Regions from separate parts of the Homo sapiens genome. Here region 1 is linked to region 2. The links come from fine-mapping of genetic effects on gene expression. Tissue or cell type: whole blood. Region 2 holds a variant in brackets; the other region holds the start of a gene. All regions are shown on one strand. Distances are between the middles of the regions.

Evidence for each region. PIP is the estimated chance that this variant, and not a neighbour inherited with it, causes the effect. A credible set is the group of variants that fine-mapping cannot tell apart.
Region 1: it holds the start of NDUFS8, and the variant in region 2 is the best candidate, but not a certain one, in a credible set for the expression of NDUFS8 in whole blood (INTERVAL, PIP 0.67).

What each region holds. Positions count from the first base shown.
Region 1 is chr11:68,029,400-68,032,193 of GRCh38, reverse strand. NDUFS8 (NADH:ubiquinone oxidoreductase core subunit S8) reads right to left here and starts at 1,513. Exons shown (of 7, transcript NM_002496.4): 1 at 1,461-1,513; 2 at 1-42. The coding sequence starts at 42. It overlaps GLTC1 (glycolysis associated regulator of LDHA post-transcriptional modification 1), which reads left to right and starts at 1,760. Exons shown (of 4, transcript NR_197583.1): 1 at 1,760-1,901; 2 at 2,774-2,794. RefSeq lists enhancers at 1,307-1,486, 1,478-1,772.
Region 2 is chr11:68,146,450-68,149,243 of GRCh38, reverse strand. No RefSeq gene overlaps it. Among named protein-coding and RNA genes, the nearest start is that of CHKA-DT, 26 kb to the right of the region's middle. The variant G/T (reference allele first, on the strand shown) is at 1,197.

The DNA.
Region 1 (2,794 bases), 120 kb after region 2:
GGCCAGGGCCCGCAGCAGCATAGGCGTGGTCAGGCAGCGCATCTGGTGGCATAAAAAGGGATGGAGGGTGGGGTGTGCCCAAGAACCATCCTCTTCTGAGACTGGCACCGCAAGGATCCCAAGTCTCCACTGACATGTGTCACTTTGCCCTCTACTCGCACCCCATTGCTGTCAGAGGCACAGATGGCTTTCCTGTTCCCAGCGCCTCCCAGCTTTCCATCTGATTCAGCTTGGCTGAGCTACAATTCAGTTTCTGTGGACCCCAAGTTCTGCCTCACCTAAGAAACCTTTTAAATCCATCCTTCCTTTCTCCCTCCCAGAGATCCTGTTTCCCACCTTTCTGCTCCTCCCTTCATCCTCCCCAAATCTAACCAAAAACAACATTACCAGCCCCCGCCAGCATGCACTGAGAGCGAACTTTGTTAGCTCTCCTCCCCCAGGAACCGTGCCCAGGGGTGGAAAGCGCTGCCATCCTATCCTTACAAGGACTCCACGAGGGAGGCACAAATAAGGCGCTGGGACTCAGTTTGTTGAGTGACTCGCTAGGGCTGGGTGTGGTGGCTCACGCCTGTAATCCCAGCACTTTGGGAGGCTGAGGCAGGTGGATCACCTGAGGTCAGGAGTTTGAGACCAGCCTGGCTAACATGGTGGAACCCCGTCCCTACCAAAAAATACAGAAATTAGCCAGGTGTGGTGGTGGGCACTTATAATCCCAGCTACTCGGGAGGTTGAGGTAGGAGAATCGCTTGAACCCAGGAGGCAGAAGTTGCAGTGAGCCCAGACTGCACCACTGCCCTCCAACCTGGGCGACAGAGTGAGACCTTGTCTCAAAAAAAAGATAAAAAAGTGACTTGTCGGAAGTCACACGATAAGGAGGTGGGCCGAGGATCGGAACCCAGCCCTGCCCTGCTGGAAACTCTTCAAGGCCTGAACAGTCCTCGGTACCACATTCCTTTCCCCAGCTTCAAGGCCCTCCTGGAACTGTCCCCCAGCCTGCCGCGTGACCTTGGGCAGATGATGTGACCTGACCTCCGTCTTCTCACCTATGAAGTGGGTTGGGGGCGGTTGGTCTTGGGAATTAGGGGAGCCCGTACATGCCAAGGGCACCCCAGAGCCCGGCACTTAGCCGGCGCTCATAAGAGCTCATCCCACGACCTGTGAACCCCCTAACAGGCCCACTCCTTTGGATCACTGACTGCAGTTCCAGGGACCCAACCCAGCACCTTCCCCACCTTCCCAGTGATCTCCGACCCTAACTAGGCCGGTGGCGCAGAGCGGGCGGCGCATGCGCCCTGAGAGCCGGCTCCCCGCTGCACCTGAAGGACACGGAGGCCGCGGATCCTGAGTGAGCCGAGGGGAAGCCCAGGCGCAGAGCTGGCGGCGCCAACGGGGACACCACACTCGCCCCCGACGCCACGCTGCCCAAGCCCGACTTTCACGGCCAAAACGTGAACACCCACCTTGAAGCGCCGCCGCTACTTGCCTTGCCAAGCAGGCCAGTCAATCGGGAGGCGGAGGCTACACTGTAGGACGCTGCCATTGGGCCAGCGGGTTCCCCCTTTTCTGTATTGATGCTTCATGGTGTGGTCTGATTGGCCAGCAAGGCTGCTGAAAGAGGCGGGATTCAGAAATATCTTTCTTTTGATTGGCTAGGAGAGACCGGCGCTTGAAGTTTGTAGGGGGCCGCCATGTTGGTTTGGGGAGGCCAATAAGTGAAGACCTCCGAGCCGCTGGAGGCGGGACATCCGGGGCGTGGTTTAGAAAGAGTGCTTTCGCCGTGGGTGCAGAGGGTGGGCCCGCCGGGTTGGGTGGGGGGCGTGTGATGACGGTAATGGCGACGAGATGCTCAACTCACGCGGCCTCTTTTAATCCTCACAGCAGCTCTGCGTGGAGAAACTACAGTAACGTGTTACCACGTTAAGGCGGGAAGCTGAGGCATGGGAGTATTTAGTAACGTTCCCGGGCCGTAGAGCTGCGGTGTGCGGCCGCCTGATCCACCTGATCTGTATGACTCCCGTACTCAACCAGCCTATGTTTCCTACCAGCGAATTTTTTTTTTTTTTTTTTTTTTTTTCTTTTTTTGAGACAATCTGGCTCTGTGGCTCAGGCTGGAATGCAGTGGTGCGATCTCGGCTCACTGCAGCCTCGACCTCCCAGGCTCGGGTGATCCTCACTTCTCAGCCTCCCGAGCAGCTGGAACCACAGTCGCCTGCCACCACCAGGCTCGGCTAATTTTTGTATTTTTTGTAGAGACGGGGTCTCGCCATGTTGCCCAGGCTGGTCTGGAACTCCTGGACTCAGGCGATCCTCCTGCCTCGGCCTGCCAAAGTGCTGGGATTACAGGCGTGAGCCACCACGCCGGGCCTTTCCCCGGGAATGCTGTGGTAGAGGGACCCGCAGAGGCCCCGAGGCTGCCTGCATGTGTGTGTTGGGAGGATCTGCGCTGAGGGTAGGTAGGAGTTGGGCAGGCCAGGACAGGAAGGAGGCAGAGGGCATGTCCCATGCCCGTGCAGAGGGAGGACACGCATGGTAGACCAGGACGAGGACAAGGGCAGGCTCAGTGTGTGCAAAGGGGACAGTGGTTTGGGATTTGCATGCAGATGCCCGAGCCTCCAAAGGACCTGTGGGCCACAGGGAGACCCTGGGGGAGTTCAAGCTGAGGAGTGGAGAGGGCTTTGGGCTGGTCAGCAGGTGCTCAGAGGAGAGGGGCTGGCCCTAGAGAGAAGGGAGGTCTTGGGATGGTGGCCCACACCTGACCCTGGCCCTTCATCAGGTGATTCCTGCGTGGATGCCT
Region 2 (2,794 bases):
GAAAGGGTTTCACCGTGTTGGCCAGGCTGGTCTCAAACTCCTGACCTCAAGTGATCCACCCACCTTGGCCTCTCAAAGTGCTGGGATTACAGGTGTGAGCCACTGCGCCCGGCCCAGAGTGACTCTTCTATACACAAAACTCTAATTTCCTCCTCTTGCTAGTCAAACCATGTTTTTCTTCTGCGGTAAGCGGCAAGCTGGGGAGGCTGAGCTAGGTGTGGTGGCACATGACTGTCATCCAAGTGGACCAGAGTTGACTCAGGCACCCACTTGGCCTGGGGCAAGGTTGGGGGGCACCTGCCCTGCCTCACTTGTTCCCAAACCTCAGATTTGTAACTTGTAAAGCAGAGGGAGTGAAAGCGCTCTGGGTTTGTTGAGGATTCAGCAGGAGAGTGCCCATCGTGCCCTTCACATGGGTCTGGCACCCAAGTCAGTTGGTACCCGTGTCCTGCCTCAACAGTCTGTGGGTGCACCCCAGACACCTCATGCGCCCTGCTCTGCCCCTAACCTCTGCCCTCCTCAGCTGACACCTGCTCAAACTGCCTTCATTACAACCTTCTCCAGCTCAGCTGCGTACTCAGACGATCCTGGATCCCGGTTCTATTTTCCCCTGGCTGATGCCCCTCTGTCAGTCAGGCCGCCTCTGTTTACCCGAAACCTCCGCTCCACCCCCGGGCCTCTCCTCCTTCCAAGGCAGTCTCTCTGCAGTCAGCTGCTCCCCTGACAGCCTTCCCTATTTGAGTGCCGAATAACGGCTGGTCACTCAAAAGGCACAGGGGATATGGGGGTGATTGAAACCCACTCCTTTCCCTCCAGGGAAACACACACGAACATCAGTAAAATGTGGTAATTGCCAGGATGCATGTGTGGAAGAAGCGTGGCAGGAGGACCAAGGAGAGTGCCCCCTGTTTCTGCTGGGGAACCAAGCAAAGCAGGCTTCATGGAGGAGGTAAAATTAAGAAGGGTCCTGAGAGATGAATAGGAGTTCATAAGCCCAAAGGGCAGAGGCGGTGGACACCTGCAAAGTCCTGGAGACATGGAAGGACAGGGTGTCTTATGGAAAGGAGGGTGAGAAGTTCAGCGTGGCCAGTCCAGAAAGTTTAAAAGGGGATGATAGCTGGCCGGACGTGGTGGCTCATGCCTATAATCCCAGCACTTTGGGAGGCTGAGGCGGGTAGGAGATCGAGACCATCCTG[G/T]CTAACATGGTGAAACCCTGTCTCTACTAAAAATACAAAAAATTTGCCAGGCGTGGTGGCGGCCGCCTGTAGTCCCAGCTCCTCAGGAGGCTGAGGCAAGAGAATGGTGTGAACCCGGCAGGCGGAGCTTACAGTGAGCCCAGATCGTGTACTCCAGCCTGGGCGACAAAGCGAGACTCCACCTCAAAAAACAAAAAAAAGGGATGATAGCTGAGGACCATTGACCTTAGGAGATGGGGGCATCTGCCTCTAGGTGAGGGCCCTGATCAGCACCCTAGGGGCACATTCTGTCTTCACCACCTCCTGATTTTGCAGCGTCTCCTATCTGAGCCTTAGTTTCTGCTCTGTAAAATGGAGATGATAATAGTACCCAACTCACTAAGGATGAAATAAAACAGCAAAAGATGCGTGAGCACCACGTCGGGTGCGTGGTAAGCATTCGGTAACTGTTAGCAGCTTTTGTTATTTCCTGGAATCTAATAGCAAAGCCTGTACTTTTCTACTGGCTTCAACTAATCAGCCCCAGCCCCAGCCCAGCCCTCCAACTTCCTCCTGGCCCCCAGCCCCAAGTGTGGCCCAACCATTCCAGGGCTGGGTGTCTTCCCAGAGCAGAGAGATCCAGGCCTCCCACTGTACAGAGAGGCAGGGACAGTGACTTGCTTGGGGACACACAGTGAGCAGGAGCAGGGGTAGCCCGGGCTTGAACCCAGGGCAGTAGCTGCCCTTCCCTGACTGTTGGCTGTGGCAGGCAGTGCCCCGGAAGGGCTGCTCTGGGCTTTGAGCCAGCAGCAGCCCAGCCAGCAAGGAGGTGGCCGCTATTGACAGATGATAACACGTGTTTGTTTAGCTAGAGCCACTCACCAAAGGGGCGTTCAACTCCCTGCAGCAGGGAGCTGAGCTTGAGGCCAGAGTCTTTCTGCCCTTCCTCACTGACACCCACAAGGGCTGCTCTGGCCTTAGAGATCGCCTGGCTGGAAACTCACAACTGTGTGTCTCCTGGATGTTTGGGAACATGAAAATCCAACAAGGTTCCACATCGCTGCTCCTGGGCGGAGTAGCCCGAGGCTCCAAGTGGGACAGCAGTCCCCAGTGTCCCCCAGCCTACCAGCTCTACCACATGGGGTGCTCCAGGCTGGGGACCCCTGGGAGGCCCTGAGGAGTGGTGGCTTGAAGAAGTGGGGGTGCTGCTGGTCGGTGGTCTCAGCGCTCCCCTGGGTTATGAAGGTCTTTGCACTTGCTTCTCCCTCTGCCTGGGACCCCCTCTTTGCCCCACCCGCTCAGGTCTCTTTGTAGATGTCACCTCCCAAATCTTCCCTCACCCCTCACTGCCATCCCGGGGCTTCCCTCCCCTTAGCCCTGAGCCCTCCAGCCACATGGAGTCCTTGGAGCCAATGTCAGGCTGATGGGGAAGGAGCTTCTTCTCTGGGAAAGCAGCCCCCAGAGACTCCAGCCTCCATAATGCGGCAGGATTCAGGTCACCCTGAAGTCAAAACCTCAGGTTGCCAGCCGCTGTCAGAGCCCCTGGGCCAGTCCAGACCCCTCCCACCTGCGGAAGCATGGAGCCCAGGAGGCCATGTTGGGCAAACAGGCTGTGCCCA